Homo sapiens: one gene and its partners. The protein of the gene in region 1 purifies or fractionates together with the protein of each later gene. This does not show direct contact. Each region holds a gene or a part of one and is shown in the gene's direction. Other genes may lie near its edges.

Evidence for each region. The genes of interacting proteins can lie anywhere in the genome.
Region 2: the proteins of ANKMY2 (region 1) and KANSL3 purify together in Homo sapiens (affinity purification with mass spectrometry; 2 studies listed by BioGRID and IntAct, with this or other methods). This does not show direct contact.
Region 3: the proteins of ANKMY2 (region 1) and ADCY3 purify together in Homo sapiens (affinity purification with mass spectrometry; 2 studies listed by BioGRID and IntAct, with this or other methods). This does not show direct contact.

The regions. Positions count from the first base shown.
Region 1 is NC_000007.14:16,600,749-16,607,770, reverse strand, and holds part of ANKMY2 (ankyrin repeat and MYND domain-containing protein 2), read left to right. Parts: intron 1-2,859; exon of another isoform or gene 2,860-2,921; coding exon 2,922-3,050; intron 3,051-5,261; coding exon 5,262-5,391; intron 5,392-6,825; coding exon 6,826-7,010; 3' UTR 7,011-7,022. UniProt on the Homo sapiens protein: May be involved in the trafficking of signaling proteins to the cilia.
Region 2 is NC_000002.12:96,600,295-96,607,316, reverse strand, and holds part of KANSL3 (KAT8 regulatory NSL complex subunit 3), read left to right. Parts: intron 1-269; coding exon of another isoform or gene 270-347; intron 348-1,779; coding exon of another isoform or gene 1,780-1,805; coding exon 1,806-1,997; intron 1,998-2,453; coding exon 2,454-2,538; intron 2,539-2,936; coding exon 2,937-3,067; intron 3,068-4,454; coding exon 4,455-4,564; intron 4,565-4,978; coding exon 4,979-5,201; intron 5,202-5,540; coding exon 5,541-5,674; intron 5,675-6,813; coding exon of another isoform or gene 6,814-6,843; exon of another isoform or gene 6,844-7,022. UniProt on the Homo sapiens protein: Non-catalytic component of the NSL histone acetyltransferase complex, a multiprotein complex that mediates histone H4 acetylation at 'Lys-5'- and 'Lys-8' (H4K5ac and H4K8ac) at transcription start sites and promotes transcription initiation.
Region 3 is NC_000002.12:24,917,220-24,924,835, reverse strand, and holds the start of ADCY3 (adenylate cyclase type 3), read left to right. Parts: upstream 1-4,598; 5' UTR 4,599-5,153; intron 5,154-5,250; exon of another isoform or gene 5,251-5,362; intron 5,363-5,651; 5' UTR 5,652-5,848; coding exon 5,849-6,523; intron 6,524-7,616.

The DNA.
Region 1 (7,022 bases):
CAGCACTCACAAATGGTTGCTGACCTTTTACCTTCCTGGGAAAAAACAGAAAAACTAAAACAGCAACCCAGAGTTCTTTAAAAAAAAAAAAAAAAAAAAAAAGCAGGTCAATATTGTGGTCAACAAGTTATCCTAGCTCCATATAATAGAATAATGTAATTAGAGTTTATAGAGTATAATTATTATTATTTTTATTTATTTATTGAGGGGGGTCTTGTTTTGTTACCCAGGCTGGAGTGCAGTGGCGCAATCTCAGCTCATTACAACCTCAGTCTTCCGGGTTCAAGCGATTCTCATGTCTCAGCCTCCCGAGTAGCTGGGACTACAGGCACACACCACCATGCCCGACTAATGTTTCTGCATTTTTAGTAAAGACGGGTTTTCACCATGTTGGCCAGGCTGATCTTGAACTCCTGACCTCAAGTGATCTGCCCGCCTTGGCCTCCCAAAGTGCTGAGATTACAGGCGTGAGCCACCGTACCCGGCCTAGAGTATAATGATTAATGTTTATCCCAGTGATCTGAGTCATCAAGAAAAGGTTTATAATAAAGTTAAGATAGTATTTAATGCATTTTAGAAAGACTTTTCTTTAAACATTTTTGTTCTTTGAGAGTTTTATGTTCTTCTGTCTGGAAGACTTCATCCCAAATGCCTGTGATTGTGCGTATCACAGCCATTGTTTACTGCCTAATTGGTTTTCATATTCTGCAAGTTCTAACCCTCTGAAGTGATGCCCAACCTTTTCCCCGCATACGATGGTTCTCAGGGCTGGCTGCTGTGAGCTTCACTGTGTTGTTTTCTGACAGTGCTAATGCCTGGGCCCTCCTGCTCAGCTTTTGGTTCCCTCTGCTGCTGTGGAACTCTGGCTTCTGCCTGTCTCAAGGCTCAGCACAAAAGAGAATTCGTAGCACTTTCATGTGAAAGCAGACCCAGTCATTATTATTTGTATTCAAGAAGAACATGGTAGTTTCAAAATGAGTGCTACTTTTAAAATACTTCTTGAATCTTTGAATATTTTCTTTGACTATCTTGAGTATACAGAACAGTGTAGGACATTGTTACCAGGTGATATTTTTAAACCTCTATTATGTACAGTTGGTAAGATAATATAAAAACAAATATTCTTAGGAAGAAAAAGCAAATACTCAAATGAAAATGAAAATTATAAAGAGTGTCAAAATGCTGGTTTGGAACAAATGAACAAATTTGAAAAACTCAGAACAAAGAACTATTAGGAGTAGGTAAGAAAAATAGAAACGCTGTGATTATTTTTTGCTAAATAGGTTTTAGTAGCATCGTCTCAGACAGATAAATGCTTACCCTTATAATTTTTTTTTTTTTAAATACAAGGTCTTGCACTGTCACCAAGGCTGGAGTGTAGTGACACGATCTCGGCTTACTGCAACCTCTGCCTCCCGGACTCAGGTGATCCTTCTGCCTCAGCCTCCCAAGTAGCTGGGACTACAGGCGTGCCACCATGCCTGGCTAATTTTTGTATTTTCAGTAGAGTCGGGGCTTCACCAAGTTGGTCAGGCTGCTCTCAAACTCCTAACCTCAAATGATCTGCCTGCCTTGGCCTCGCACAGTACTGGGATTACAGGCGCTAGCCACCACACCCAGCCCCTTATAATTTTCTTTGTAAAAAAAGTTTATAGGCCAGGCGCGGTGGCTCATGCCTGTAGTCCCAGCACTTTGGGAAGCCAAGGCGGGCGAACCACGAGGTCAGGAGTTTGAGACCAGCCTGGCCAACATGGTGAAATCCTGTCTCTACTAAAATTACAAAATATTGGCCAGGTGTGGTGGCTCACACCTGTAATCCCAGCACTTTGGGAGGCCAAGGCAGGCAGATCACAAGGTCAGGAGATCAAGACCATCCTGGCTGACACGGTGAAACCCCATCTCTACTAAAAATACAAAAAAATTAGCCGGGCGTGGTGGCGGGTGCCTGTAGTCCCAGCTAGTTGGGAGGCTGAGGCAGGAGAATGGCATGAAGCCAGGAAGCAAAGCTTGCAGTGAGCAGAGATCACACCACTGCACTCTAGCCTGGGCGACAGAGCGAGGCTCCGTCTCAAAAAAAAAAAAAAAAAAAAAAAAAAGTACAAAAAATTAGCTGGGCGTAGTGGCGGGCGCCTGCAATCCCAGCTACTGAGGAGGCTGAGGCAGGAGAATTGCTTGAACCTGGGAGGCGGAGGTTGCAGTGAGCCAAGATCGAGCCACTGCACCTCCAGCCGGGTGACAGAGACTCCATCTCAAAAAAATAAAAATAGATAAAAATTATAAATATTTTTTAACCTATTTTAATTTTCCATTGCCCACTAGTAGTAAGTTTCACACATTTGGTTTTTCTTAATACTTTGATTCAATTGCTGCATGTGTGTTTCTTAACAAATTTGGAACATACCAATTATAATGGTGATAATTTATTTGAATTACAAGCCAACATCAAGTAAATGAGTTTAAATATATTGTCTTTAAAATACTTAGATTGTACTAAACTTTTCAGAATTAAGACAGTTAAACATTTTTGATGTGCCCTATAATTGTCTCATGGAATATGAATATTTTCTGGATGTCAGTTCTCAGAAAAAAATTCTGCTCTGGAGTTATTGTCCTAAATCTGAAACGCTATGGGCTTACTGAATTATCCTTATTGGAAAAATACTTTTTTTCTAGATTAAGGGTGTTTTTTTCTCTTTAATTATCTGGACATATGACTGACTTTTCATATGTTTTGTACAGAAAATGGTATATTCTAAAAGATTTTTGTCATTTTGTCTTAAAGCCTGTGTAATCTATAGCCTTAATGATTTCTTCCTTTTTGTGTCACATTGTAGGACGGCAGTGTCCGTGGGCTGATACCTCTGTAGTGTTTCCATGGTGATTTCAGAATTTGTTTTTTCTCCTCTTCATGCCCACTCTAGGGTTCTGATCCCACTGCATTCTCCGTCCTTACCCAAGCCATCACTGGCCAGGTGGGTTTTGTGGATGTGGAATTTTGCACTACCTGTGGAGAAAAGGGAGCAAGTAAAAGATGTTCAGTTTGCAAAATGGTAAGAATGGAGTTCTTTTTATTTCATTGACCTCTGGTTTAGATGCAGCCAAGCTGATGATTGAGTTTTAATATTCTGTAAGAGTGGACATTAGTTTTCTAATAAATTCTAGTAACGAAAATATTCTATTTAATACTTAAAAAGTAGTTTTGGAAAAGAATTAATAGGATCAATATAGTTCTTTACTGTGTCTGTCTTCTGCTAAACTGCCAGTCTTCCTTTGCCTCTTTGCTGATCACCTCATGGAAAGAAAGGATATGAATGAATGAATATGAGAAAATAAGAGAAAGGTTTTCCGTGGGGCACGAGACCAAGGCTGGTGCAGATGTGAAACCTAGAATAGGACAGTTCATAAATATACATTCTTTACTCTTCTGATGTTGACTTTAATGACAGTGTCTTCATCAACATATCCTTGTAAAACTATAGTTTCTGACTGTTACCAGTCTTTAATCCCTATGGACTGTACTGCCCCCTTCTGCCAGAATTATCTTTGTAAAAGGCATATCTGATTGTGTTGTTCTCATATCCAGATACTGGACACATGCATGTGTCCGTACATTCACTTAATCCCATAGGTAGCATCAACTGCCTGTTGACTTTAAGGTTGAAATTCTCCAGCATGTTGTATGAAACCCATTATAATCTGCTGTGACCTACTTCTTCAGCTTCATCTTGTTTAATGACTTACTTCTCTGAACCTGTTTCCTGAATTAAATGAAATTCCAGAATTAAATCAAACTATTTATATTGGTTAATTATTACTGCTTATAAAAACACACTCAAACTCAGTGCTTAAAATGATAATCATTTAGTCTTTCTCTCACAGTTGTGGTTGGCTGTTCTCAGCTGGGGCAGTTGTGCTCCATGTGACTCTCATCCTTCTTGTACTAGCAGGCTAGGCTGAGCATGTTGTCATGGCAATAGCAAAGGTACACATGGGCAGGTAGAAACACAGAAGACCTCTCAAGGACTAGCCTTGAAATTGCCATGTTGTTTCATGCTGTTGGTTGAAACAAATTACATGGCCCAATCTGAAGTCAAGTCTCCTCCCCTTCAGTGCAGAGAACTTTGAAATCATGTGAGAAAGTGTATGAATGCAAGGATGAATGAAGAATTGGGGCCAATAATACAATATATGTATAAGGGCCTACCACAGTGCTTGGCATACAGTAAGTGTTTAATAACATTCATTCCCATCTCCTTTCCACCCCTACTTGCAAAAATATAAGGCCATTTACAAAAACTTCTTGCTGTTCTTGAACATATCATTCACTTCCCTGTTCCTGCATTTTTGTACTAGATATTTTCTCCAGTTAGAATTCTTCTTTCCCATTTTTCTGTCTACCTCGACTCACCACAGCTAGAGTGAGTTGCTGCTTCCTCTATGCCTCCATCACTCTTACATCCTGTACTGTGTTAAGAAATTATGTATTTAGGTGCCTGCCTCTCTCCCTTCTTCCATATCTTTCTTTTTCTTGATGCTAGCTACCTTTGGGACAACTCTATCTTCCTTGTCATTGTACTGTACCAATTCTGGCACATAGCGGGTTCATAATAAGCTATTTGCTAAAGTCTTTGGTAGACTGTTTGTTATATATTCATTATTGTTTTAAAGTAAAGCTACAAACTATAAATCTAAATCAATACAAAGATACTGTGTTAGGCCGTTCTTACGTTGCTATAAAGAAATACTTGAGACTGGGTCATTTATAAAGAAAAGAGGTTTAATGGGCTCACGGTTCTGAAGGTATACAGGAAGCATGGCATGGGCATCTGCTCAGCTTCTGGTGAGGTCTCAGGAAGCCTTCAATTATGGTGGAAGGTGAAGGGGGAGCAGGCATGTCACATGGCAGGAGCTGGAGCAAGAGGAGGTGGGGGAGTTGCCACATACTTTTGAACAACCAGATCTTGTAAGAACTCACTCAGTATTGTGAGGACAGCACCAAGGGAAGGGTGCTAAACTGTTCATGAGAAAACCGCCCCCATGATCCTATCACCTCCCACTAGGCCCCACCTCCAACATTTGGGATCACAATTCAGTATGAGATTTAGAGGGGACAACATCCAAACTATATCAACCACATATTATGGTTTTAAAATAAAGTATGGAAAATGACATTTTTATAGCTTAGTTCTTGGTTTAGTCATAGTTAGGAAATCATACAACCCAAGCTCTGGAAATGAAAATAAACCAACAATTGCTTTCAGGTAATATATTGTGATCAAACCTGCCAGAAAACACACTGGTTTACTCATAAGAAAATCTGTAAGAATCTGAAGGACATTTACGAAAAGCAACAGTTGGAGGCTGCCAAAGAAAAGAGACAAGAGGAAAACCGTATGTATATAAAAACCGAGTTCACTCTGCTTTTTAGTGGAGAGAGAGATGATAGGTGATCTTAACACACTGAAACTGCGTCTTCTCTGGAAGCCATAGGAGCTCAGGAGTGACCGATGTAAGAATCACATTTAAATTTTAATGTGTCCCGTTTTTAAGTTCTTAGGATATAGTCAGCCTGGACATCACTGGAAAACAGAGACATCAAATTCTGAGGGATGTAGCTTATTTCATATTTTACATTCTAGCTTAGGTTACTGCCCTGGAACAATGGGACCCTTAATGGGTATTAACTTATATTCTGCTCATGAAGGATTTTAAAGTCTTTGAATAAGGGAATTAATTAAATTTCCACTAATGGCTACCAGAAGATTTTAAGGGTGGAAGCCTTTAAATTCCTTAATTAAATTTCAGAACTACAGGTGAAATTACAGAGTATATTTATAAATCATTCATTAAATTGCAGATCTAATATACAGATCAAATTTCTACAAGTGTCATAGCAGTGAATTTTGTATTTTTTTTTCTCCATCCCTCTTGAGGTTTTGTGACCCATTTTCATCAGAAATAGTGAGTTGCTTCAGCAGTGATTATCAGATTGGAGAGGAGAACTGCCCCCACCCTCATGCCTCATTCCAGAGAATGTATCATATGTTCTGGGGGAGTGCATGTAATTTGAAAAAGATGCCTCGGTTATTCTGATACCAGGCATTTCTGCCTCCATCTCTCAAGGAACCATATCCGCTTTACTACTGGGTTGAGATATACTCTCAGTGGAATTAAATGGTTTGTACACAATTAAACCATTTATCCTTAAGAGAATAGTCAGGCTTTCTGACTGCCATGCCTTCTCTTGTTTTCTTGACCAAACTTTTTTATTCTATGTGCTAAGGACAGAAAGTAACAAATGTTCATTACTAACACACTATTGAGGGAGAATAAGATTGTCAGTAGAATGGGCACTCCCAGTTGTTAAGCATCATTCATGCACCAAACACTGCTCTAAATGTTACAGACAACTTTATTCTTCACCAATGTAGGATAGCCTTTATTACCTGCATATTATAGACAAGGGAAACAACTTCATGCAGGCAATTACCTCTCCAAGGACATCAAATAAATTCACAGAAAAGCTGTATTCAAATACAGGCTTTGTCAAATCCCAAGCAACAATCTTGATTTAGAGATGGCTTTGGAGCCAGCGGCCTGAGTTCAAATGCTGGTTCTGCTGTTTCACTAGCCAGGAAACTTGCAGCAAGCTACCAAACCTCTCTCTTCTCAGTTTTCTCATTTGTAAAATAACGTTAGCGATGACAGTAGAGATACTAATATACCTCATGTAGTTGATAGGAAGATTAAATAATACATGTAAAGCATTGAGAAGAGTGTCTGACACATGGTAGGAACAAAATAACTTCTTCTTTTTTTAATCAGACGGCAAACTTGATGTCAATTCTAACTGTGTTAATGAAGAGCAACCAGAGGCTGAAGTAGGTATCTCTCAAAAGGATTCCAATCCTGAAGATTCCGGGGAAGGAAAGAAAGAATCTCTTGAAAGCGAAGCTGAGTTGGAAGGCTTACAGGATGCTCCTGCAGGGCCACAGGTGTCTGAGGAGTAAAAGCCAGAGCAA
Region 2 (7,022 bases), on another chromosome or scaffold:
ATATGGAGTCCTTGCTGTGTGCCATGCCTTCTTCATGGCACTCGCATTGCTGTAGTTTGTTGAGTTTTGGCATGGCCCCATGAGGCAGATAGTACTATTCAGTTTTAGATGCTTCTACAGACTGACTCCGTGGCAGAGTCAGGTTGCCATGCAGTAATTTCAGAAGGAGCCCCTATTGGCCATTTTCTACAACCTTTTTTCTTATTCCCTCTCTTTTTCTCCCTTCTCTGGCTGGCTGTGATTCTGTAATTCTTTCTGATTCATTCCAGCACAGTTTGCTGCTTTTCTGAAACAAAATATGCTGGTGAGGAAAGCTCTTCCTCCTGGCACCTCCTCCTGTCTCTTTGGTGAGTATTACTCTTTCTTGCCTGCTCGTCCACTACATTCTGCTCCTCAACCCCTTATTTATTTTCCATCTCTGCCTCTCATCTGCCTCAGTTTGGTTTCCTCCTGTTCTTTTCTCTCTCTTTCTTTGTATTCTTTTGTTTTGCTGACCCCTTTTGCTTACTCTGTAGTCTTTGCCCTTTTTCCATTCTTTTGTTTGCTTCTCATGGTGTTTTCTTTTTTGTCTCTTAGTGTGGTTCTTTCTTTCACTACGGTCTTGGCTCTGCTGCTTTTTTGTATGTCTGTGGCATTGCCTGAGTCTCAGTTTCCTTGTGTGTTTTTCTCCCTGCCTCCTGTCCTGTGTTTATCTGGTGGCTACAAGCCTACCAGCCACATATCAGCATAGAACCTGAAACTCCTTTCCCCTACACCCTCCTTCCTACTCTGATTTTAGCCAGTGCATTTGTCCCCTAAGCAATCCTTCTAGCTGGTTATGTCCTGACTGTTGCCTCATGCCAGGACCCCTCCTCCCTCCTCATGTGACTGCTACCTTCCTCCCCACACCAGTCTTTGCTTCCCTGTGCTACAAGAGGACTAGGGTGGACTTCTGGGTTTAAAGAGGAGGGAATCTTTGAGGAAGCTTGAAAGATAACCTAAGAGTCCAAAAAGCTTGGCTGTATACATGATGAGCCTGTTTGATTCAGTGGAAGTGGAAGCCCATGTGTGAACAGATGGCCTTTGTCTGTACTAGTACACATGACCTGGGGACTAGGTTGTGACATGGGCCAGTGTTGCCCTGTTACTTTTGGGTGGGAGCCGTGAGGTTGCCTGGTTGAGGTACTCTCTCTCCTAGTAGCTACTCATAGCCAGCTTTTAGTCCTGGTGACACTCCTCTTCATTGCCTCCATTTGGCAAGTGGATCCTCAACTGTGGGCTCTTAGGGCAGGGTGGGACTCTTGAGAGCCTTTGGAAAACTCTACTTTTTAGAGAGGACTGGATGACCTGCTCCTCCATGAGTTCTCATAGAATGTTTGATGTCTCCAACTGTGTGATGATGTGGGGAGGGCTTCAGACAGGAAGATGATCACATTTTTTGAGTCTGAGAAGGACTGTTTACTCATTCTGTTGAATCCTCTATTTTTGTTGTTGTTGCCATTGGCCTTGGCTAGGCAGGGTCAGGATGTCTTCTGTCTTTTAATTCCTACCAACTCAGGGCCCCTTCTCTTCCGATTCCAGTGCAGGATGAGGGATGAGAAGGGTGCCATCCTCTAAGAAGGGCAAAGTGGGGTCCCCCACGGACAGGGCCTGAGTGAAGTGGTCCTGAAGCATGGGCAGTCTCCTTTGAGGGGTGGCCCTGTACGTAGAGTGGTTATCCTGTGTGTTCTACATTCTACACATGGCTGTGTTGGTGCTGGTATTGACTGAGTGTCTGTTGGGATTTTTTGGATTGTGGAGGATCTCAACTCAGCTCCATGTCTTAGTTCCCATTTCATCAGAACCACCAGAGGAAGGAGAGAAAGAGGATCTTAGGGTTCAGCTGAAGCGACACCATCCCTCGAGTCCCCTTCCTGGCAGTAAGACCTCCAAACGACCGAAGATCAAGGTGTCCCTTATCTCCCAAGGGGACACAGCTGGAGGGCCTTGTGCTCCTTCCCAAGGAAGTGCTCCAGAAGGTGAGTTTCTCTTGGTACGTTAAATGAGAACTGAGCTCTCTCAGGTACACAGCATTGCCCTTTGGTGGCCATTCACCAGCATGTCAGCCTTTGCTTTATTTTGAGAGATGCCCGGAGCAAAGAAGACATGAGTCTGTACATGTGGGTAAAGTTGGCATGAGTCCATCTGAATGAGGACCAGGCAGGCAGAATATGAGAGGAAGCTGTGCCATCGTTCAAAGCATCCTATATTTTGTTCTTTTTTTGTTGGCTTCAATTAAAGGTACAGAATATTTCAGGAAGTTTAGAAAATAGAAGGAAAAAATAACCCCAACTCTCCCTACTCTAGCATAGTTCATCTTTTTTCATTTTCCAGTTTTCGTCCGTAATATCTTGCATTTAGCCTAAGCTGTGGAACCTGGAAACATAGAGGCCAAATAGGACTGACCAGGGGCCTTGGGGTTTTCTGTTTTGAAGCTGCAGGTGGGAAGCCCATCACCATGACACTGGGGCAGGCTTCAGCAGGGGCCAAGGAGCTCACAGGACTTCTCACCACAGCCAAGTGAGTGTTTATTGGACCATCTGTGTCTATTCCTTTTTTCCCTTCCCTCTGTTTCTGGTTTATTTAGTGCTTTGGAAAATGATGGATTCTGGATTCTTGTCAGTTTTGGAAATGTGACTTACTTCTGATTGGGATCTTTGTCTTGCTTTTGAGTCAACCCAGAGTTCACTTTTACTTAAGACTCCAAATCGTCCCCTGGCTTTTGCTATAAGTCCTGTAAGTAAGGACTTTTAGAAGACTAGAGGCCAGGTACAGAAAGTGGGACAAAGAAGCTGAAGGTTTTTGGTGTATGTCTGCTGCTGAAAGCCTTGCTGGGCCCCACTCTGTACCCTGCCAGTGTTGCTAGGGCTTGCTGTCCTGTGACCTTTGGATAACAGAGCTCCTTCCTTTGTCTCCAGGTCCAGTTCTTCTGAAGGTGGAGTCTCAGCCAGCCCAGTCCCTTCAGTGGTCTCCAGCAGCACTGCACCCAGTGCCTTGCACACACTGCAGAGCCGCCTGGTGGCCACATCTCCTGGCAGCTCCCTCCCAGGTATCTTGTGGCCCAGCATTCTCCCCTTCCAACACAGAATTTTTGGTCTGCTGCTTCTGGGTGGTCCTGGGAAAGCATCCCTGGAGCTAAATCCATAGGATGGGCCTCTGGGTCTTAGAGTGATCATAGAGGCTTGACGTGAAGCTGGAATTAGCTTGGGCAGAGGGATTCCTTGGCCTTGAATAAATGCAGTGAGTAAATGTCCTGGTCTGCAAGTGAGTAAATGTTCCAGTCTACAGGTGCTGTATCCTCTACTGTAAGGAGAAATAGCCGATAGGACATATATGTATAGTCAGCCTTTCTTATCCACAGGAGATTGGTTCTAGGACCCTCACCACTACCAAAATCCATGGATGCTCAAGTCCCTTATATGAAATTATGTCATACCGTTGGAATTCTATATCCACAGGTTTCTATCCGTGGTTGTTTGAATCTGCAAATCTGCTGTGAAGCTCACAGATAATTGAGAGCTGACTGTGGTTTTACTTTGCTGTTTTAAGCACATCTGCCTGAATAAAACTGGAAATGGTGCTACACTGGGCATTAGCAAAATGAGACATTTTTCTGTCTGTGCTTGTCTCTCTCTTTGTCCTACCCACTAACCCTACTTTGAAAGGCCTGTTGCCTGAGCCCAGCAGGGCCAAGGCATTGCAGAAACCCTCTCCTGGCCAGGCATGGTGACTCACACCTGTAATCCCAACACTTTGGGAGGCCGAGGTGGGTGGATCACCTGAGGTCAGGAGTTTGAGACCAGCCTGGCCAATATGGTGAAACCCCGTTTCTACTAAAAATACAAAAAATTAGCCGGGTGTGGTGGTGGGCACCTGTAATCCCAGCTGCTTGGTAGGCTGAGGCAGGAGAATCGCTTGAACCCAGGAGGTGGAGGTTGCAGTGAGCTGAGATTGTGCCATTGCGCTCCAGCCTGGGCAACGAGAGCGAAACTCCGTCTCAAAAAAAAATAAAATAAAATAAACCCTTTTCCTTTAAGAGAACCTTTCTTATTGCTTTGAGGCTACTTCCTTACTGCTTTGATTGTGTGAGGCGAAGTGAAAGTTGGATATTTATAATTCTTTTGGCTTAAAAAGTTCTTCCCTGGAAAGAAAGGAACAAACTTGGATTTCTCAAAATGGTCTAAAATGTATGACTGATGGTTTGCAGCAGGTGCAGAGCAAGTCCGGGGCAGTGTCTGGCACAGTACCTTTCCTGTGTGGCATCCATTGCGTGTGTGCCTAGTTGGGGAGAGCTTCCTGCCTTCTCTCTGAGGACGGGTGTCCAAGGGCAAGCACCACTGGTGTTTTAGTTGGTGGTGAGGGTGGATGGATGTGGCTGCTCTCGGGATAGTGCAAGTGATTGAGTCTCTACTGATTCCTGCTATGTCCTCTCTTAGGGGCCACATCAGCCAGCAGCCTCCTCCAAGGCCTCAGCTTCAGCTTGCAGGATATCAGCAGCAAGACCTCTGGCCTTCCAGCAAATCCCTCCCCAGGACCAGCCCCACAGGTGCACATCTGCCATCTGCTGGGCTGGGCAGGTGTAGGGAGGAGGCCTCCTCAGCTTAGTTGGTTTTGGCAGGGAAACTAGGTCTGGAGTCAGTGGATCAAGGACAAACAGCCTTCTAGCTACATAGCAGGGAACTTACAAAAGTTAAGGTCTATCATTTACTGTGTGACCTTGGGCAAGTTTCTTGACCACTCTGTTTTTGTTTCTTTGTCTATAAAATGAGGTAATAATAGTACCTCCCTCATAGAGTTGTTATAAGAATGAAATAATATATGCAAAATGCCTGGAAGAGTACCTTGCATGTAGTAGGCACTCAATACATGTTAGCCTTTAATAATATGCTGTGGGCCCTCCAAGCTCGAATGTTGCTGTTGGGCGACAGCTTCTGATCACCTGGGCTTGTGTGTCCCACAGGCCACCAGTGTGAAGTTGCCCACCCCCATGCAGAGCCTGGGTGCCATCACCACGGGCACCAGCACCATTGTCCGTACCATTCCTGTGGCCACCACTCTCTCCTCCTTGGGTGCCACTCCTGGTGGGAAGCCCACAGCCATCCACCAGCTGCTGACCAATGGGGGCCTCGCTAAGTTGGCAAGCAGCCTCCCTGGCCTGGCTCAGATCTCTAACCAAGCATCAGGTGAGTCTCTCATGAGAACTGTGGGGACTCCCAGATCTGGGATCTTTCCCCCAGGACCTTCCCATCTCATGTGGGCAAGGTATGATGTTGAAACCAGTCCCACAGGGTCCTGGCATTGACCTTTGGATTCAGCTGTGTGGACCCATCCCCCAGAGAGGTTGAGAGAACACAGGCTGTTTCCTGTTGCCTTTCAGATTGACTGATAGGGCATAGATGACCCAGCTGGGGAGGAGGCCAAGGGACTGTGTTATGTGGGGGAGAAGCTCTCCAGGAAAGGAAAGCCTCAGTAGAAGGTGGAGAGTGTGACTCAAAAATTCTGCTTCTCTCTCTTTATCTCAGGCTTGAAGGTCCCCACCACCATTACTCTGACACTTCGTGGCCAGCCGAGCAGGATCACTACACTGAGCCCTATGGGCTCAGGAGCAGCCCCATCCGAGGAGTCCTCTTCCCAGGTGCTGCCCTCCAGCTCACAGGTGAGTCTGCCAGGAAGGACTGAGGACATGGGCTTCATTATTGGGAAGTTTAAGACCAGCTGACTGGCTGATTGAAGGGGCTGCCCATGCACTGGACAGACGAGATTCAGATTCAAATTCAAATCTGTATTCTGGAGTTTGTGGCTTTATAATATTGAGCGAATCATGGACATCTTTGAGCTTCCTCTTCTACATCCCTCCCTTGATATTGTGAAGAGTACATATGTTCAAGTGGGTAGCAGTGTCTAGTATTTAATGTTTTTGTTTACTTTTCCTTTCGTTTCATTTTTTTCTCATCCTTGGTTTCATCCTTCAGAGGTTATGAGTAGAGGCTACTTGGCTAATGCTCTTTCTTTGTTTTTATTTTTATTTTTTGAGATGGAGTCTTGCTCTATCGCCCAAGCTGGAGTGCAGGGGTGTGATCTCGGCTCCCTGCAACCTCCACCTCCCCGGTTCAAGCAATTCTCCTGCCTCAGCCTCCCAAGTAACTGGGATTACAGGCGCCCGCCACCATGCCCGGCTACAACAGGGTTTCACTGTGTTGACCAGGCTGGCCTCGTACTCCTGACCTCAAGTGATCTACTTGTCTCGGCCTCTGAAAGTGCTGGGATTACAGGTGTGAGCCACCGCTCCTGGCCCTTTCTTTGTTTTTAAGGACATGGAGACAGAGATATCTCACTATGTTGCCCAAGCTGGCCTTGAACTCCAAGGTTTAAGTGGTCCTCCCGCCTCGGCCCCCAAGTATAATACTCTTTCTTTGACATTGGCTTTCTAGCACTGTGCCTTCCCATATCTTAGCATTTATTGCTGTCTTTTTAGGGCACAGCTAGGTTTTTATAGGTCTCACCCAGGAAGTCATGATTAGTTTCTCTTAGCTGATCTAATTTCCCCTGTGACCTTTTCAAGTCAAATATTTCTAATCTTAAAATGGTAATCTGAGGAGCCACTCAAAGATTAGAAGTTAAGCCAAAAAACAGTTTGAGTCTAGTACTGAGTGTGCTTTCCTTCAGTATCCGCTATACAGCCAAGGCCTTCCTGTGTCTCCCTGTCCTTTCCACCATGTCAACCTGCTTGTGAACTGGAGGTGCAGTGATAGTTCCTGAGCCATTCTAAAAGCTCTTCTGTCTCTTCCTCTTTAGGGAAAATACTGCACAGAGGTCAACACCTGACATTCGTTGGGATCATAGCTACCTTTTTTTGCAGAGGGATGGAAATGTTTTAATTTTATCTTATTTCTTATTTTTTCAATTATAAAAATGATTATGCTTATTTTAAATAATTCAAACATTATAGAAATAATTAATTTAGAAAGGGAAAGTTTCCCATGATGCTACTCCTAGAGATGATG
Region 3 (7,616 bases), on another chromosome or scaffold:
AGATCTGCCCACCATGTTGGTCCCATGAATCCCCTACTTCCTGACAAGGATCCTGACTAAGGGTTAGTGCTGTCACTGCACCACAGAGACACAGGCTTGTGGGGGCTGAGTAATTGGTCCGAGGTGCTCAGCTCTCATCAAGGCCATGCTCAAAACTGAGCTCTCTGATTCCAGGGAGCCAGCTTTCCCTAGGGTACCACACACCTCTCCTCCAGGTGACAGGATCCAAACTGCTGAGCCTCTGAGCCAGCAGGAATGGATGAGGGGTGTGGGCCCTGCACAGGATGCTTGAGTATCACATGCCACATCCCCCCGGTCCCCCTCTCCACTCCCGTTACTGCTGCAGGCACACCCCAGCAGCACCTTGCCAGGTATCTGCACTGAGGATCCCTCGTTTCCTGCCCAGTCCGCTCACTGCTTAGCCTCCTTTGCACAAGAGCCAGGGAGAGAATACCCCAACTGGCAACCCTTAACCAACAGGGAAGGATGAAAGGAGGACGAACACCCACCTTTGCCAGCCCTCCAGTGGAAAGCTCTGAGGTGCCTTCTGCAAGGCTCATCAGAGGGTCCCAGCAGGATCAAGGCCCCCTCCCACACCAGTGGCCAACTCCGTCACAAACCCTCATATTTACCGGCTTTCCTGCCTTCTCTGTTTTGAGCTTCCCAGGCTCCTGCTCTGTTTCCCTGGAATCACTTCCCCAGTTGAACCACCTGCATGCAGGCCGGGTCTCAAGCTCTGCTTTCAGGCCCCAGACAGGGCTCTCCTGGTGCCCAGCACCAGGGGAGCTAATGATCTTCTCTCTCCCACTTCTGTTTTCCCCCAGGACACAGAGTTCTGCTCTGATCTATTGTTTGCTGGATTCAAGAGCCACCACATTCCCCGGGGGGGCCAAACCATTCTTGTTTATCCAGTAACAATTAATTCTCAGCCATGATTTCTAGTCTTGAACCACACAAACAAAAAGTTGCCTTCAGCAAAGAGGCATCCCATCCAGGCAGATGCTGGATTGAGGTTGGGGGGGGTCAGGATGCCCTCCAAGCTTCGACCTAAGTCTATGATTCTGTCTTCCTTTTAGGACAAGCCACAGGGGCAAGTCACCCATGCAGCCATTTGAGGTCCTGAGTTGTGTGTGTATAGATTTCCTGTATCATTTGATTATAAAAGCGAAGCATGCCAGTTGTCCAGGTTACATCAATACAAAATGTATAGCTTGGAAAGTGAAAACAGCTCCCCCATAATCCCACCCTTTTCACTCGAGGGTGGATATTTTTCATTGCCCTGGGACCAGGACATTCTCAGTATCAGGGAATGAGGCCAGCTGGTCCCTTCAAGGACAGCCAGTGCCTTTATAAAGTACCATTTCTTCTTAGGGAGACTTCCATTCATTCAATGACTATTTTTTGAGTATCTACTAGGTGCCAGGTACTGGGGAAGCCACTGTGAGTGAGATGGATGAGGCCCTCGCGGCATTTTCCCTGATCTCCTCTGTGGCAGGATGTCAAGCAGCTCTCTTGCCCAGGAATATTCACCCAGATGCTTCTGGCTCCCCGGGAGTCCTCGCAAGGGCCTACTGCTGTCCCACTGCGTTTCCCATATCCACAGGGAAAGGCCGTGCCAGAACCCTGAACGCGGAGCAGGGATGGGAATGTGCTGTGCTCTTCCTGCGGCTGGGCCTTTGCAGGGAGGCTCCAGCCACCTGGAACGCCTGCCTTTCAGGCCCATCAGATCCTTCCCTCTTGCCCTGAAAGGCCCTGTCTCTGATCACCTCAGCCAGAAGTCACCCCCAACTGTAACCTGTGTACACCTGAGGGTCTGCCTCATGAGTCAACATGGTGCCTTGGCAGAACTATAAGGCTCCTCTGGTTTCCCCAGTGCCCGCTGAACAGGGGCCCACAGAGGAGAGATAGGGATGGTGGAAGAACAGGGAGTGGGACAGTGAAGCCAGCAGGCAGGGGCTGGAGAGGCAGGGATCAATTTGTTGTTGTTCTTTTTATATGAGGGTGCCTCTGTGTGGAACTCTCTCCCTTCATGGGGTGGGAGGCTGGGGCATGAGTGGTGGCAGAGGGCCCAGCAGAGAACCCTCTCAGCTTAGGAGCTGGGCATGGCCTTGCGGACAGGGTGCCACACTGAGAATCACAGGGCTGGCATGTATGCCAAGGAAGGGGAAGGGACCCACAGAGGGTGCAACATGGTGTCTCTTGTGCCAAAGCAGGACCAAGCACAAGATTTATCAGCCTTTTAAAAAACATTAGCACATCTCTCCCCCAACCCCCACTTTTTTTTGAGATAGGGTCTCATTCTGTTGCCCAGGCTGGAGTGCAGTGGTACGATCTTGGCTCACTGCAACCTCTGCCTCCTAGGGTCAGGCGATTCTCCCACCTCAGTCTCCTGAGCAGCTGGGACTTCAGGCACCCGCCACCACGCTCGGCTAATTTTTGTATTTTTTGGTAGAGACAGGGTTTTGCCATGTCAGCCAGGCTGGTCTCGAACTCCTGACCTCAAGTGATCTGCCTGCCTCGGCCTCCCAAAGAGCTGGGATTACAGGCATGAGCCACTGCGCCTTGCCGTACATTACATCTCCCTTTGTAAAACATAAAAGTCATGTCCTCTTTAACATCATGTGACAATTCAAAATAAATGTTTAAACCTCCAGCAAAGTCCAGGCATGATGGCTCACACCTGTATTCCCAACACTTTGGGAGGCTGAGGCAGGCAGATCACTTGAGGTCAGGAGTTCGAGACCAACCTGGCCAACATGATGAAACCCTGTCTCTACTAAAAATACAAAATTTAGCCAGGCATGGTGGCAGGTGCCTATAATCCCAGCTACTTGGGAGGCTGAGGCAGGAGAACTGCTTGAACCCAGGAGGCGGAGGTTGCAGTGAGCTGAGATGGCCACTGCACTCCAGCCTGGGCGACAGAGTGAGACTCTGTCTCATAAATAAATAAATAAATGCCTTCCTTTTTAAAAAACAAAAACAAAAAACAAACCACAAATAACTCCCTCCAAAAAAAATCCCCCCCAAAACCCAAAAACCTCCAGCAAATTAAAACAATGGGGCAGCCCAGAGCAGTGGCTCATCCCTGTAATCCCAGCACTTTGGGAGGCTGAGGTGGGCGGATCACTTGAGGTCAGGAGTTCAAGACCAGCCTAGCCAACATAGTGAAACCCCATCTACTAAAAATACAAAAATTACCCCGGGCTTGGTGGTGTGTGCCTGCAATCCCAGGTATTCAGGAGGCTGAGGCAGGAGAATTGCGTGAACCTGGGTGGTGGAGGTTGCAGTGAGCTGAGATCACAACACTGCACTCCAGCCTGGGTGACAGAGTGAGACTCAGTCTCGAAAAAATAAAAAATAGAAATAAAATAAAACAATGGGGCAAAGTTTTGCTTTATTTAAATTACCAAACTCCTATATCTGATGTTAGGTCCCCTACCTTTGGAATCAAAGCCCTGCGAAGTATGGGCTGAAGGTGGCGCCTTTTCAGACAGAGTGTGAGGGAACGGTAGAAACAGCAGTGGCAGGATCGATTCTCTAATGGATCCATTCCCCGAGGGATGCAAGGTGATGCCTGAGGTTCTGGAAGGGGTGCCCGCGGATAACTCTCAGGGGCATGGGGTGGCAGCTCCATCCAGGGTCTGGATAGCCAAGTTTCTCTCCCCTCTGTTCATTCCTTCAGCTCTCCCCAGGGGAGATGACCCCCTATTGCTGCTGGCTGTCCTCAGCACTTACCTTCCCACACATGCTTTTGTCCCTTTTGTCCCAAAACATTCTATCTCTTTCCTCTTCCTTTATTTAAATTCCCAAAGCCTGTAGTTGATCTTAGCACGGTGTTCTGTCAAATGCAAGGAAAATAATTTATACTATGGTGTAAGAGACTGATAGGTTTAACTATTCAAAGGAGCATTCGCATCTTTAAGGGACAGTTTGTGAACTCAAACACATCTCAAACGGGTAGAATGTGCACGGGAAATCTCTTCGAAGCAGGGTCTCAGGAACTCTTCCAGTTCCACGTGTGTAGTGCCCACCGGGCCACCGCCACCCGCCTCCTGGGAGCAGGACAGGGCTCCGCTGCCGAGCCCCTCTGCGGAAAGCTCAGGCCCGGCGCTCCGGAGTCTGGGCTCCCGGGGTGGGCGGGGATACTTAGGCCCCACGTGCCCCGCGGCGGAGCGGTCCCCAAACCTGAGCCCTGGCCTCTGCCGGCCCGGAAGGAAGCCGCGGCGGAGGAGGGGGCGGCGGGGTGCCCCGAGCGCGCCTCACCTGCGGGCGGGCGCGTCCCGGGCTTCCATCCTCCTAGACCGGGCCTCCTCGCTGGAAGGGGTGGATTCGCCCCAGCCCTGCCGCCCACCGCCCACCGCCCACGCCCGCGCCCGCGCCCGCGCTTCCACGCAGCCATCGCCCCAGCCCGCCGCCCGCGCCGGATCGGGGGCCGCCCGGGCCCCTCCACCTCTCGCCCGCGCGGGTCCTGGGACCGCCGCCCGGCGCCTCCCTCGCCGCCCCACTCCGGAACGCGCCGCCGAGAGGGCGGAGACTGGGGCGAGGGAGGGGCCGCCCCGCCCGCCTCCCGCCTCCCGCCTCCCGCCTCCCGGGGCCTGGAGCGCGCGTGGCCCCGGAGCCGCCGGCGCCGCGCGGGGAATAGCTGTGCAGCACGCCGAGCCCGGACTCGGCTGGCTCGGCTCGGCGCGGGCGGGCGAGAGGATGCTGGCGGGCTTCCCCGGGCTCGGCCCGCGCTCCCGCCGGGGAGGGCCCCGCGCGCGCCCCTAGCAGCCGCCGCCGCCGCGGGTGCAGGGGAGGGGTCCGGAGAGCCGCGCTCGCCGCCGCCCGCGCCTGCCGGCCCCCGCACGGCCCCTGCCCCTGAGCCTCAGCCCCAGGGCGGGCGCGCTGGGCCGGCGCCCACGGATCTCCCAGCCCTCGTCGCCGCCTCCTCCTTCCCCCTGCGGCCGGGCGCCCGCGGATGCTGAGGGGCAGCCCTGCGCCTCTCCCGGTCGGATCCCGGGCCTGACGGCGGGAGATCGCGCTCCGGCCGGGCCCCGAGGCGCTGCCGGGGCGGCGCGGCTCTGCGGGGAGCAGCCCTCGGGCGCGCCGAGCTCTCCCGCCCCAGCCCGCGCGGGGACCGTCCCGGAGCACGCGGTGGCCGAGTTCCCGCACAGGTAAACGCAGGGGCAGGGCCAGGCTTCCGGGGGGGAAGACAGCGCCCCGAGCGTGGGAAGGGGGCCGGATCGGAGCCCGAGCCTCCAAGGGTTTGGTGGAAAAAGGAAGTAAACAGAAGGAAGGCTCAGGAATCCCCCACGATGGTCCTGATTTCTTTCCGGCACATTTTATTTACAGCTTCTAAGGACTGGGCCTGGAGGGAATTTAGGTGAGGAAGTCGGGGACTGAGAAAGAAGAGATGACAGAGAGAAACCGGTTACCAGGGATGGAAAGGCGGCTAGGCCCTTCCACAAGCCAGGGACAGGAAATTGAGTGTCTGGCGTGGACAGGACTAAGTGTGCCTGCGGTGGGCGGTGGTGTGAGCCGGGGGTGGCAGGGAAGGCCCTGGGTTGGGAGGCTCTTGCAGCAGAGATCCTTTTATGAGGGTTAGGGCGGGTCATGGGGAAACCGCAAGGTAGGAGGGAAGAGGTGCTTCTACTCAGCAATGCCCTTTTCAGTTCTAGCTGATCAGTGCTACCTGTGCTCTGGAAACCCGCTCTGCGTTCCTGCTGGAGGTGGCCTCCCCTCCGCCCCAGACAAGAAGAGGCCCTCAGCCCTCCCCCGGTCTCAGAGAGCCCTGAGAGGAGGCCCAGTCCAGAGCTCTTCCTCCGTTCCCAGTCCACTTCTCTAGGGCCAGTAGCAGACACCAGCCAGTATGCCGAGGAACCAGGGCTTCTCCGAGCCCGAATACTCGGCCGAGTACTCAGCCGAGTACTCCGTCAGCCTGCCCTCCGACCCTGACCGCGGGGTGGGCCGGACCCATGAAATCTCGGTCCGGAACTCGGGCTCCTGCCTGTGCCTGCCTCGCTTCATGCGGCTGACTTTCGTGCCGGAGTCCTTGGAGAACCTCTACCAGACCTACTTCAAAAGGCAGCGCCACGAGACCCTGCTGGTGCTGGTGGTCTTTGCAGCCCTCTTTGACTGCTACGTGGTGGTCATGTGTGCTGTGGTCTTCTCCAGCGACAAGCTGGCTTCCCTCGCCGTGGCTGGAATTGGACTGGTGTTGGACATCATCCTCTTCGTGCTCTGCAAAAAGGGGCTGCTCCCGGACCGGGTCACCCGCAGAGTGCTGCCCTACGTGCTGTGGCTGCTCATAACCGCCCAGATCTTCTCCTACCTGGGCCTGAACTTCGCGCGTGCCCACGCGGCTAGTGACACGGTGGGCTGGCAGGTCTTCTTTGTCTTCTCCTTCTTCATCACGCTGCCCCTCAGCCTCAGCCCCATCGTGATCATCTCCGTGGTCTCCTGTGTGGTGCACACGTTGGTCCTGGGGGTCACCGTGGCCCAGCAGCAGCAGGAGGAGCTCAAGGGGATGCAGCTGCTGCGGGAGGTGAGTCCTGCCCACTGTCCCCCCACAGCGTCCTCTCCTGCAGCTCTCACCAACTTGGGACCTGTTGGAGTTGCTGTTTGCTTTGCCTTTGAGTCAAAATGTGTCCTGGGGGCCTCCGGGGCTCTCACCTCTCTCCCTAGTCCCTGCCTTTTCACCCCTGTGCCATTACCCGGAGTCTGCCTGTGCTTGGCCCCAGGGAAAGGAGGATGTCAGGGCATTGGGCCTCAGGGCCACTCTTCACCTGTGCCCAGTCTAAGTGTGTGACAGGAAGGCCCACCCAGGGCTGGTCTTGAGGCAGCATTGTCCTGGCCATTCCCTGTCAGTGACCCTGGCAAGGAGGACCTCCCTTGGGAAGAGGGCTCCTTGATTCCCATCTCTCCCCAGCACTGACTAGCTGTGTGGACTCAGTGCCCCTTTGTCAAATGGGGATAACGTCCGCTCTGCCTGCATGACACGGTTGTTGTCAGGATTGCAGGAGATGTGGGGGAAAGCGCATTAGGATACGTGAAGGGCTGCACAGAGGGAAGACGCAGTTGTCATATTTCCTGCCTCCGGGAGCTCGGGGTGCCTGGGGAGTTCTATGAAGTGGAGAATGGTGGTCTCCCCACTGAAGGTGTGGTGTGGGGATGCAAATGGGGACAGTCATGCCGGCCACTGTGACGTAGGGTCTCCTGGTCCTAAAGCACGCATTCTGCTGGTCCTGGAGCACGCTTTCTACTGGAAGGGGTGGAATTTCGGCCTCAGCTTAACTATTATAGTATTGTGTTCCCACCAAGTGCCAGGCCCTCAGGGGCTGCAGAGACCAGGGGACCTGAGGGACAGTAGGCAGTGTGTGTCCCTGGGGAGCCAGCAAGCCGGTGACCAGAGAATGAGGCGGAGATGTCTGCATCTGGGTTTGGTGCCCAGCCTGCCAGCCTCGTGCCAATGATGGTCAAGAGAGGCTCCCCCACTTCCTGCCCCTGCAGTGCTCTGTCTGGTAGAGATGTCTTAACTCCCACGCCAGCTCTGTTCTGTGGTTAGTGGGGCTGGGGTAGAGTCAGCTCTGAAGCGGTGACCTTCTGGGTGTCAGGAGAGGCAGGGCGTGCCCAGAATC